Linked DNA regions of Homo sapiens: region 2 is linked to region 1. The links come from fine-mapping of genetic effects on gene expression. A gene starts in region 1. The other region holds a variant in brackets. All regions are shown on one strand. Distances are between the middles of the regions.

The links. PIP is the estimated chance that this variant, and not a neighbour inherited with it, causes the effect.
Region 2: its variant is fine-mapped to the expression of LINC00466 in tibial nerve (GTEx, PIP above 0.99).

Annotation. Positions count from the first base shown.
Region 1 is chr1:63,314,765-63,320,139 of GRCh38, reverse strand. LINC00466 (long intergenic non-protein coding RNA 466) reads left to right here and starts at 2,883. Exons shown (of 12, transcript NR_038252.3): 1 at 2,883-3,082; 2 at 4,053-4,191. RefSeq lists a silencer at 2,558-2,737.
Region 2 is chr1:63,194,586-63,199,960 of GRCh38, reverse strand. LINC00466 (long intergenic non-protein coding RNA 466) reads left to right here. Exons shown (of 12, transcript NR_038252.3): 5 at 941-1,245. LOC105378770 (a long non-coding RNA gene) reads right to left here. Exons shown (of 3, transcript XR_947454.3): 2 at 3,514-3,707; 3 at 1,252-1,529. Among named protein-coding and RNA genes, the nearest start is that of LINC00466, 120 kb to the left of the region's middle. RefSeq lists enhancers at 1-331, 1-413, 405-1,159, 1,160-1,915. The variant T/A (reference allele first, on the strand shown) is at 3,098.

The DNA of each region.
Region 1 (5,375 bases):
GGTGGAGGACGAACAACTCCCAGCTGCCGGTTCCATTTGTTGCGCTTTTTTCCTTCGACACAATAAAAGTCAAATTAATTGATTCATACCATTAATTACGGCGCGTAGCGTGAAAAGCAACGCTTCCCCTCGGTTAGAGATCTATTGTGCTAATCTCTTGTTCAATCAGTGTTACCATCTGATGCTGGGTCCGGCCCTTACAGAAACTTTTCGACTCGATTAGCTAAATGATGAGACGTGCACAACCTACTGGCTGCGGCCCCGACGTCCCGCGCCCGCGCCGGCCTAATATCGATTTCCAGCGGAGGCAGAGGATTTTTCCGCGGCCGCTCTCGGCTCAGGAACCGGCCGCCGGCTTTCTCCCTCCAGGCGGACCATAGCGCCTGCACAACCTCCGGGGGCGGGAAGGAGGCGAAGCGGCGGCCGGGGAGGGCGACAGGAAGGTTCCTGCTGGCCTTGACGCAGGAGGCCGCCCCAGCGGAAGGGTCCGATCCCGACGCGGTGCAGGGTCCTGCCGGAGACCGGCTAGATGTCGGGCTAAATAAATTGTTTGCCGCGTAGTTGCAGTTTGCAGCTAAAAGCTCACAGGTCGTCAGTTACCGCCAAGCTGTAGGACAGAGACGGAAGAAGCGAGACAGATACAGAGAGAAAGTGAGACACATGTAGTGGGGGGAAGAAAATGTGATAAAGGGTGTATGTGGATAAAAAGTTTCTGAGTCTCAAAGGGTTATTGGAGAGATAGAGGGAGAATGAGTAGACACACACACGCAATTATGAGTTTGAGTGACTCTTTGAGTCTCAACAAGCGAACTTCCCAGGAGAGATTTAAAAAGGAAGATGGCAGCCAGCTGCCTCACCTGCTCAAATGTTTGAAATGTTTCAACCAAAGGAGAATGGAATGAAACCCCTTCGGTTCCTCTGGAGCGGGCAGAGTACATGGTACCCCGCTGGGAAAGCCACCTGGACGCGGTGGGAATGAGGGGTGCGGGGAGTGGGGATCTAGGTTCTAGCAACAGGAGGCAAGAAGAATGGAGTCCGGATCGATAGGAAGGAAATTGAGACGTCTCCAGGGGAGGGGAGATTTAGTGTGTGCGTCCAGTGGGGGGATGGGGGGGAAGAAATGGATAGAAAAATTTATGATGGAGAAAGGGAAATTAATTACAGCTCATTTTGGGTTCTTAGGTGGTCAACACTGGAGGAGGGGCACGGTTAGAGTGCGGAAGGCGGGAATTGCCCACCTACCCCTCACCAGGCCCAAGTGAACCCATATGCCTCTTTTCTCCTCTTTTAAGTCAGAGACAGTGCCAGTGGCTTGAATAAGTCGTTGGCGCGATGTGAGATAGAATCATCATGCCCGCGCGCGGGTGCACTTTTCTTACAATACGGGGAGTTGGGACCAGGTTCCGCGGAGTGAAGGGCGCGTCCCCCACCAAGAGTAGTTACTCTTTGTCCAAGAGGGAGCAAAACGTGGGTGGGACTATTAGAAAAATTCCCCTCCTTTCTCCCCAACACCCCCGCGCCCGCAACAATCAAAGTCTGCTGCTTCTTGAAAATCTTCATAGATTTGTTAAACTATTACCGGCCTCTTTGTCTGGATGGCCGCCACCAAGGAAGGTGGGAAAGGGCAGAGGTGGTACCCAAGGCCCCAACCCACCCAGATTACTTCCATTTCCCAAAGCGGGGGATTTTCAACTCTCTTACCCACCACTACCCCCTTGTATACCTCTCCGGATCTTTTCGGGGTGGAAAAAAAGAGGCTATTTTAATGTTCTTGTTTGGATTTGCATCTCAAAACTTCATTTATTTTCAAGATGTCTGCCACTCAGGGTCCACGCCAAGGCGTGCCTGTAAATGGCGAGAGACCAAAAGGAAAGGAGGAGAGAAAGAGGAAGAGAGAGAGGATGGTTTCGAATTTATTTATATTGGAAATATATAAACATCCATTCTGTAAAAGGCAACACGTTTAATTAACGATGAGAGAGCAGTTAGGGGCAGAAAGCTAGTAAAATTGTGTGATAAATTTATGGCATTGTTAGCGTGCTTTTAATTATGGCTATTATGTTAATTATTTCACATTAGCATGGAGTTATCAGCAGCATGTCGGATTTAATAAAAACGAGCCTTTCTCTCGAAAATTGTTCTTTTCATCCACGAGGAGAAAGGTCCTGGACAGGATCGGGGCTTAAAAATGACTTGGCATTGAAAGCCGGAGTCTTTCTGACACCGTTTGGAGCGATGCGGCCAGGCCCGGCTGTCCGCTGGGTCCCTCCAGGCTACCGGCAGCTCGAGGAGGAGCCCAGGGCTGGGTTTTTAGGAATTCACCATTTTCACCCCCTTCGGAGCCGACACTTCATCATGCGAGATCATTCTGTCAAACAATATGATGCTGCTCATTTTTATCTGTCCCGCTTTACAAAATCCCCATTCAGCCGGCCGAGGAGCAACAAAAGCCTCTGAGCAGCTCCGCAGCCACTGGCGGCCACAGCCTCCCCGGCGCGCGAGAAAGGCGAGAGGGGCCGAGGAAAGCAGGCGGCGGGCGCGCGCCCCTCTCCGCCGGAGGGAACGCTGCCTGCCGGGGCCTGCCAGCCCAGGTGTCGGGTCCTCGGGTGTGGCCCGGGCGGGACACGCCTCCCTCAGGCCCGCGCCCGCCCTCGGCCTCCCTGCAGGCGCCGGGCGAAAGCCCCCAATCCCTCCCCTCAAGCGACTCGCCCACCCAGGCCACATCGATTCTTTAATCACCGCCGATCGATTTATTGGGAGCAAATAAATAGACCGTTTTGGAAACGTTTCAATTGCTGGCTTGACGGTTGGGGCGCTGACGCGGGAGGGCGGGCAGGGCCGTGGGGCGCGCGCGGGAAGGGACTTGTGGGAAGGAAGGGAGCGGAAAGGCCGAGCGCCACCCGCCCCGGGAGTCTCCAGAGCAGCGCGCGGGGCAGACCTCCTCGGGTCCTCCGGCGCTTCGGTCTCCGGAGACGCCCGGCCTCCTGAAGGGTTCGGCTTGTCCTCCTCTGGCGCTCAGCTCCCTCTGGCGGCCGGGCTGGCAGGACCTCAGCGCCCAGCCCTTCCGTCTTGTTACGTCCAGGCAAGTTGGCCTGGCTTTCGGATGCCTCTGGACAGTCCCCGTCCAGGCCCGCGACCCAGCCCGAATGGAGGCCCCGGGGCCCACAGAGCGCGGCCTCCCAGGCCTTCCAGCCCTGGCTGCGGACGCCGCAGCCTTCTCGCCCCTGGGCCGGACGCGGCCTTCCTGCCCAAGACCACTGGGGCCCCCGCCCCTCCCGGGACAGGGCTGTGGACAGGCCAGCTGCTGCCTTATTTTTAGCGCCATTCCATTCGCGCGGTTATATTTAACTCGACCCACTCCTCCGAGGAGGTCGCTCGGACATCGAATTCTCCACATCGCAGCTTGGGCCTGCCCGCCTTGCCTCAGGGGTAGTTCCTCAAGGGACAGATTGGAAAACCCCTGCTTAAGAATCCTTGACATATCTGGAGCTTGGAGAGGACGGGACTGGGGGAGAGATCTGGTTCTAGGGGCAGTGGCCACCGCGCCTGCAGTGCACTGCGTGGGGATTCCGCCTTGTGTGGGGCGGGGGAGGGGAGGAAGGGACAGGATCAGTCCTGTGGGAAGGATTCTCTGCGGGGAGTATTGTGTCCATTTCCTACTTCTGCATGACTCAGAACACTAGGTGACCTGGAAGACCTCTCACGACCCTGCCCTTGGAAAAGTTTATCATTTAGCGTGAGTGCAGGAATCCCCTCTTCTCTACCCTCCAGTGCACCCAACGGGATATTTGATTTCAATGGTATGTTAGCTCCTTAGTTCCAGCCCAGTCTTCCCTTGGCAAAATCTTAAAAAGACCATGCCAAAGGCTCACTCACATCCTGGGGAAAGGACCCACTTGGATAACATACGGAAACACCATTGTGATACACGCTTTATTCACACAGAATGTCAGTTAGCAAACAATGCAGAAGTCATGTACTAAAGGTACACTAACAGATGTGACATGGATCGCGGATATCGAAACACATTTTTTTGTTTTTCTTTGAGACAGGGTCTCACTCTGTGTCTCAGGCTGGAGTACAGTGGTGCAATTGTAGATGGCTGCAGCCCTCGACCTCCTGGGCTCAAGTGATCCTCCTGCCTTAGCCTCTCGAGTAGCTGGGAGTACAGATGCACACCACCACACCCAGGTAATTTTTTATTTTTATTTTTTGTAGAGATGGGATCTCGCTCTGTTGCCCAGGCTAGTCTCAAGCTCTTGGCCTCAAACGATCCTCCCACCTCAGCCTCTCAAAGTGCTGGGATTAAAGGTGTGAACCATCCTGCCAGGCCAAAACACATTTTAAAAATTTAAATTCTTCTAACATTTTTAAAGAAACAAGTTTTCCTTGGGTCAAAGCTGCCTTTTTTGGTAACTCTCATTTTAATCCAAAATTTCTTGGATTTAAGTCATACCCACAGCTGAATTCAGGGGGAGAGGATATATAAGTATACAATATATATTTATTTACTCATTTATTCCTTATTAGTAATTTATTGAACTGTTGTAGACCTGGAAAGTACCAGGAATGAAAAGAAGAATTAAACCCAAGGTTCCTTAAGGAAGAACCAGGCAAGAGAATCAGTGTTTGTCATGCAGGTTGATAGGTGCCATGGCAAGGGGAAACAGCGCAGAGGAGGGCCTTTCTCACTGGGTAGGGATAGAGAAAGTGTGAAGCCTTCAATACGGAAGATGCTACTGACCAGCTACCTCTGACTTTAGGGGTTTTCAGGGGAGATTGGGGAGAAGTAAGTTAGAACCCGGGATACTTTGGGAAAAGAAAGTGCTAAGTTGGATGCCTAATGGTACTTCTGGACAGCCAGAAAGTACTTGGTCTCAAGGGAAATGGACAATAGATGTATGATAAGGAAACAGAAAGGGATGGAAGAAGAGAGAAGGGAAATGTAAAAATTGAAATTTGCTTAGACATTTTGTCTAGGTATAGTACATTTAGACTACATGGAAGTATTTGACTAACAAACACATGGAAGAAATTTAAAAGGGAACGTAGATAAAGGAAAAGATCCTTTGAAAAGAAAATATTCAAAAGGCTAGTTGTTAGACCCAGCTGTTTTTCTAACCTTATCGTATTCATCAAGGGCCAGACACTGGAACCACAAAGGTGAGTAAGAAGATAGATTCCACCTTTAGAATGTTAATTCCAGAAGGGCAGGAATTTTTATCTGTTCACTGTTGTATCCCTAGCCTCCAGCCAAGTACTAGTGGTGTAGGGGTGGAGGTGTGGCTCAATAAATATTGCTTGAATAACCCGATCAGTAAGACACATTCTCACTCTAATGGGGGACTTATTCAGGGAAGTCCATAGCTAAAATG
Region 2 (5,375 bases), 120 kb after region 1:
TTATGAAAGGCTGAGTGGACTTGCAGCACCACTTTGTCACTCACACTAATCAGTATCGTAAGGGCCCCGAGCGGGCAGGCTTTTGTATCCCTTTGACAAAGACAAGGTTAGGGGAGGATGACAGACACCCAGACCTTTACAAACCCATACTGCAAGATAAAATGGGCCAGCTGAGCTCTGAGCTGGGACAGAATTTTAATTTGTTTATCAATGGCTCTCACATGTGCAAGACCATAAGGATATTTGTCAGAGGAGTAACACTGAGGCTAAACTCTTTTGTTTGGCAAGTGGAGCTTGGAAAAATATGTATTGAACTGTAAAAAAAACAGGCTAAATGGGGGGAAAAAGGTAAACGTCTTAAGAGAAGGGAAATAACTTACATTACTATAGACGTGATCTGAGCCTAACAGTTTATTGTGATTTTGACTTTTAAAAAATGCTTTTAGTTATTGCTTTTTAAAAAAAGAGGTGTTTTAGGAGCAACAGAACAGTAATGGGATTTTTTTTTCATTTCAAATTCTCTGATTTCTAAAGGAAATCTAAAACCTATGAAGGGATGGGTGGGGTCATTTGTTAATGGGAAGATGGGTGTTAATTTGTTGCTTTTTGTTGTCTGTTACAACGTTGTATAACTTAGCAGCAAAAACAGCGGAATTTGCCAAACATGCTTTTTATATGTAAAAAGTACTTTTTGTAAATGCCAGGAGGGCTCTATCAGTAACAGCTTTTCACATTTAAATGCGGCTTGCTCTCCTGTGTCTGCGGTCAGAGCCCACTGGATTTAGGAAACTAGATAATTTGTTGTGCTACCGATCAGAGCAGGAACTGAGAAGGCAAGACTGGCATCCGCCAGGGCTGCTTAGCACAGTGGTTGCCAGGGTTTATGTTTTGGTTATTGTTGTTGAATGATCCTTATTTGTAATCTCTTTTTCTGCTTGAGATCCCCTTTTATTTTTCAGAATTGTGGCTTGCATTGTAAGAGGAGCCTGTGAATTCAGAGGCAAGTCTGCTGAGGACCGAATGTTCCTGTCCATAAAAACAGAAGTCTGGCCTGGGCTCCTCTCTTGGGTGAATTTGCAATGCCAGATCCTCTCTATCAGTTTGGTTTTGTTTCTTGTATCTCTGGGAAGGCAGGCAGACAGCACGGTCACCTGTGAATGCAGCTACAATTGGCTTAGCTGCCTCACTGATAAATGTGCCCCCAGTAAGCTACAAAGGGATTACCAGCGTTCTCAGCAGCTAAAGGTGAGTTTCAAGAACAGGAAGGATTGCTTCAAACTGTTCTCCTAGCATTTCATTTTAATATTTTGCGTGACAGAGCACAGAGCCGATGGATATGAACACATTTAACTCCAATGACCAATGTGGTGCAGTCTCTGAAAACATGGAGCCCGGTTCTGTGTCTTCTTTTGGATTCCATTTTCTCAATGTTGGACATTCTCCAAAAGGTCAGCCAGGAAAAGTCTCTGGATGCCAGACACCAGGCAGACCAGGCAGGCCAGCAGACTACTGGTGTTCATTCATTCCTCCTAGAGATGGGCACAAAGTAAAGGTTAATTCAGACCACTTGGCAAGTGCTTGCTTGTCCAGTGAAGTTTACAAACCAATTCATGCAGGTTGACCGCAAAACTCCATGTACCTTATTTGGTCTTTCACAATGTAACCCATCCAAACAAAATCAGACCTTGATTGAAGAATAACTATGGTTTACAGAATATTACATTGAAAACAGCAGAGGGTTGGAATTTAAATTATTAACATACTTTTAGGGCATTGTCTAATACATATTATGAAGACATTTACTTTTTTTTAATTGAGAGGAACTAGAAAGCTCATGTATTAGAAGGTACTGTGAAACCTATCTTCAGTAGCTTCTTTTAAATTCAGTTTTGAATCTTCCTGTGTTGAAATGTAAGCTGATCTAAAGTGTAATCTTAGATGGTCTCATCTGAGAGAAATGTTATAGAAAGGAGGTGGTATTTATAATAATAGTAGCTACTGTTTATCGATTGCTCTATGCCAAGTACTTTCTTTACTAGCATTATCTTATTTAATCCTCATAAAACCTGTGAGGCAGGCACTATTATTAGTCACATTTTATAGATAAGGGAAATGAAATTTAGAGAAGTGATATAACTTGGTCAAAGTCACATAGTGAGTAAAGGGCAGAATTAATATTTGGACTCTGGTCAGCTTCCAAAGCCTTTTGTACTTACGGGGGTAAGCAGAAACTTACCGCAGGCACAGCACTGCCTCCTCAAAGTATCTAGCTCTGTTCTGTCACGTGTAGGGTATGTATATAAAATCTTCTGTAAAAAGTCACTCAACTGCTCTGAGCTCAGTTTCCTCATCTTTAAAATAGAGATAATAATACCTCCTAGATAGGTTTATATGTGAAACTTTTATAAAAATAAAACCCTATATACAACCAGTTATTATTACCATGTTGAAAAAAGATGGTTTCAATTGAAGCAAGTAAACACAGTTGCCAAATAAATCTTTTAAAAACATCATTTTCTTAGTGACTTGATCCTTCTTAACACTCTATGGTGGCTCTCTGTTGTCTATCAGAAAAGGTCCAGACGCCTGAGCCTGGAAAGAAGCCTGGCCCACGTTCTATCCATTTACCCTGTGGCCTTACAGAGACAGAACCTTTGCAGAGCCTGCACTGTGCTTTTACTGTTCCCTTTCGTGGTTGGCTGAATATTGGCCTTCCAAAGATGTCTACATCTTAATCCCCAGAACCTAGGGAACCTGTGAATACATCACCTAACATAGGAAAAGGAACTTTGAGGATGTGGTTAAGGATCCTGAGATGGTAAGTTTATCCTAGGTTGTCTGAGTGGGCCCAATAGTAATAATAACAAGGGTCCTTTTAAGAGGGAGGCTGGAGAGTCAGAGGCAGTCGCAGAAGATGAGACTATGGAAGCAAGGAGTTGGAGTGATGGGAGGAAGGGGCCACAAGTCTGGGGATGTGAGTGGCCTCAGAAGCTGAAAGAGGTGAGGAAACAGATTATCCACTGAAGCCTGCAGAATGAACACAGCCCTGCTGATACTTTGATTTTAGGCTTCTAACTTCCAGAACTATCAGAGAATA[T/A]ATGTGTGTTGTTTTAAACCACTCATTTGGTGGTAGTTCATTACAGAAGCAGTGGGAAACAAATGCATTTTTCATGACATGATCGTTCCCAGTGCTGCTCTTGTGCTCAGGCTGTTTCCATCCCCTGAAATATTTTCCTTTCCCTTCCACTTTTCTAATCTTACTTTCATGCTCAAGTCTCACTTAAAACCTACAGCAGGTAAATTATTTACCATAGCACCAACAGACCACTTGACCATACCCTAACATGTGTTGCTCATTTATTCATTGATTTCTCAAATATTTGTTGATTACCTACCAGGTTCTTGGGACATAGCCTTCAAGAAGCCTATGGTCTAAGAAAGGAGGCAACAGGGACTTATTAATACAGCTATGAGAGAGGAGAATGTGGAAAGCTATGTGGAGAGAAACCTGACCTATCTGGGGTGGGCAGGGAAGGCTTCACGAAGGAGATGGTGGTTGGTAGGAGTTTTGAAGCTTCAGATCTCCAATTGTTTCATATTTCCAAAACAATTGGAGAAGAGTAGTAGAGTGGTTAAGAATACGGCTTGAGAATGAGCGCATCTGAATTCAGATCCAAGCTTTGCCACTCCTTGATCTGTTTCTCCCTCTGTAAAATAAGGATGACAGTAATGTTAGTATCTAACTCACAAATTATAATCCGTTTATAGGAATACCATTTACATAATAAACATTAAGTGCTTATTTGTTATTTCAATTTCTCAAGGGCAGCTACTGTTGTATCAGTCTCATTTTGCATTTATATAGTGCTGGACACATAAACTAGCTCATTGAGAGTATATCTACAGATATGTATACATTTTTTTTTTTTTTTGAAATGGAGTCTCGCTCTGTCACCCAGGCTGGAGTGCAGTGGTGCGATCTTGGCTCACTGCAACCTCTGCCTCCTGGGTTCAAGCGATTCTCCTGTCTCAGCCTCCTGAGTAGCCGGAACTACAGGTGCACGCCAGCACGCTTGGCTAATTTTTTTTTTTTTCTTCTATTTTTAGTGGAGATGAGGTTTCACCATATTAGTCGGGCTGGTCTCGAGCTCCTGACGTCAGGTGATCCACCGGCCTCGGCCTGCCAAGGTGCTGGGATTATAGGCTTTTGTATTTTCTGCAGGTTAGCATATTAGCATAATGCTCAGCATATAGCTGGTGCTTTATGAATGCTCACTGACTTGGCGTGGAGCACCAGAAAGTCCTATCTACAGTTGCACATTTGGAAAATGATAATGCTTATTTTCATGCTGTCTTCACTCAACCACCTTCTAGGTATTTGGGTTAGGGCAGTCTTTATTATAACAACAGAGCTCATGCTTAGGGTATTGCATAGAGGCACAGATGGGTTTACCATGAAGCTAAAGGCAGATTTACTGTGAATCTTATAAAATGTAACTCTTTCATGGGCCCCTTCCAAGGCCCTGTACCTAGTTTTGTGTTTGTAGTGTTGTATTCTTTTTTCTCAAAGAGAGCTCCTAGAATTATATAAGCTTCATGTCCCACAAGACCTTGATATCCTCCCACATGTTGGCTAAGCATATGAGCTTTGTAGACAGACTGCCTGGGTACAAAGCCAGTTCTACTAGTTATTAGCTGTGTGATCTTCTCTGTGCCTTAGTTTTCTTAGCTGGAAAATAGGGTTGACAGTAATGCTACCTTCTTCATAGGGTTGTTGAGAGGATCAAACACACTAATCTTAGTAAGCATACTCTAAGTGATAGCAGTTATTATTAATTATGTAGAGCCTTAGGAAGTGTCCAGGGCTTTTAAGGTAAGAGTAGCAGTTATGAGAGAAGGCCAGAGTAGAAGCTTCATGACAGCAGGAATCATTTTGTCTTCTTCACTTCTATCCCCAGAACCTTAAAAAGGTGAATGCATATTGTGCTCTTAACCACTATGCCAGAGGGCTGCACTTATTACATATTATTTTATGGTCTTATAAAATAAGATGTTTTTTCTCCAACTGGATTGTGATAATAGCAACTTACTTTTTTTTTTTTTTTTTTTGAGACAGAGTCTTGCTCTGTCCCCAGGCTGGAGTGCAATGGCGTGATCTTGGCTCATTGCAACCTCTGCCTCCCAGGTTCAGGCAATTCCCCTGCCTCAGCCTCCAGAGTAGCTGGGACTACAGGTGTGCACCACCACGCCTGGCTAATTTTTTGTATTCTAGTAGAGACAGGGTTTCACCATGTTGGCCAGGATGGTCTTGATCTCCTGACCTAGTGATCCGCCCGCCTCAGCCTCCCAAAGTGCTGGGATTACAGGTGTGAGCC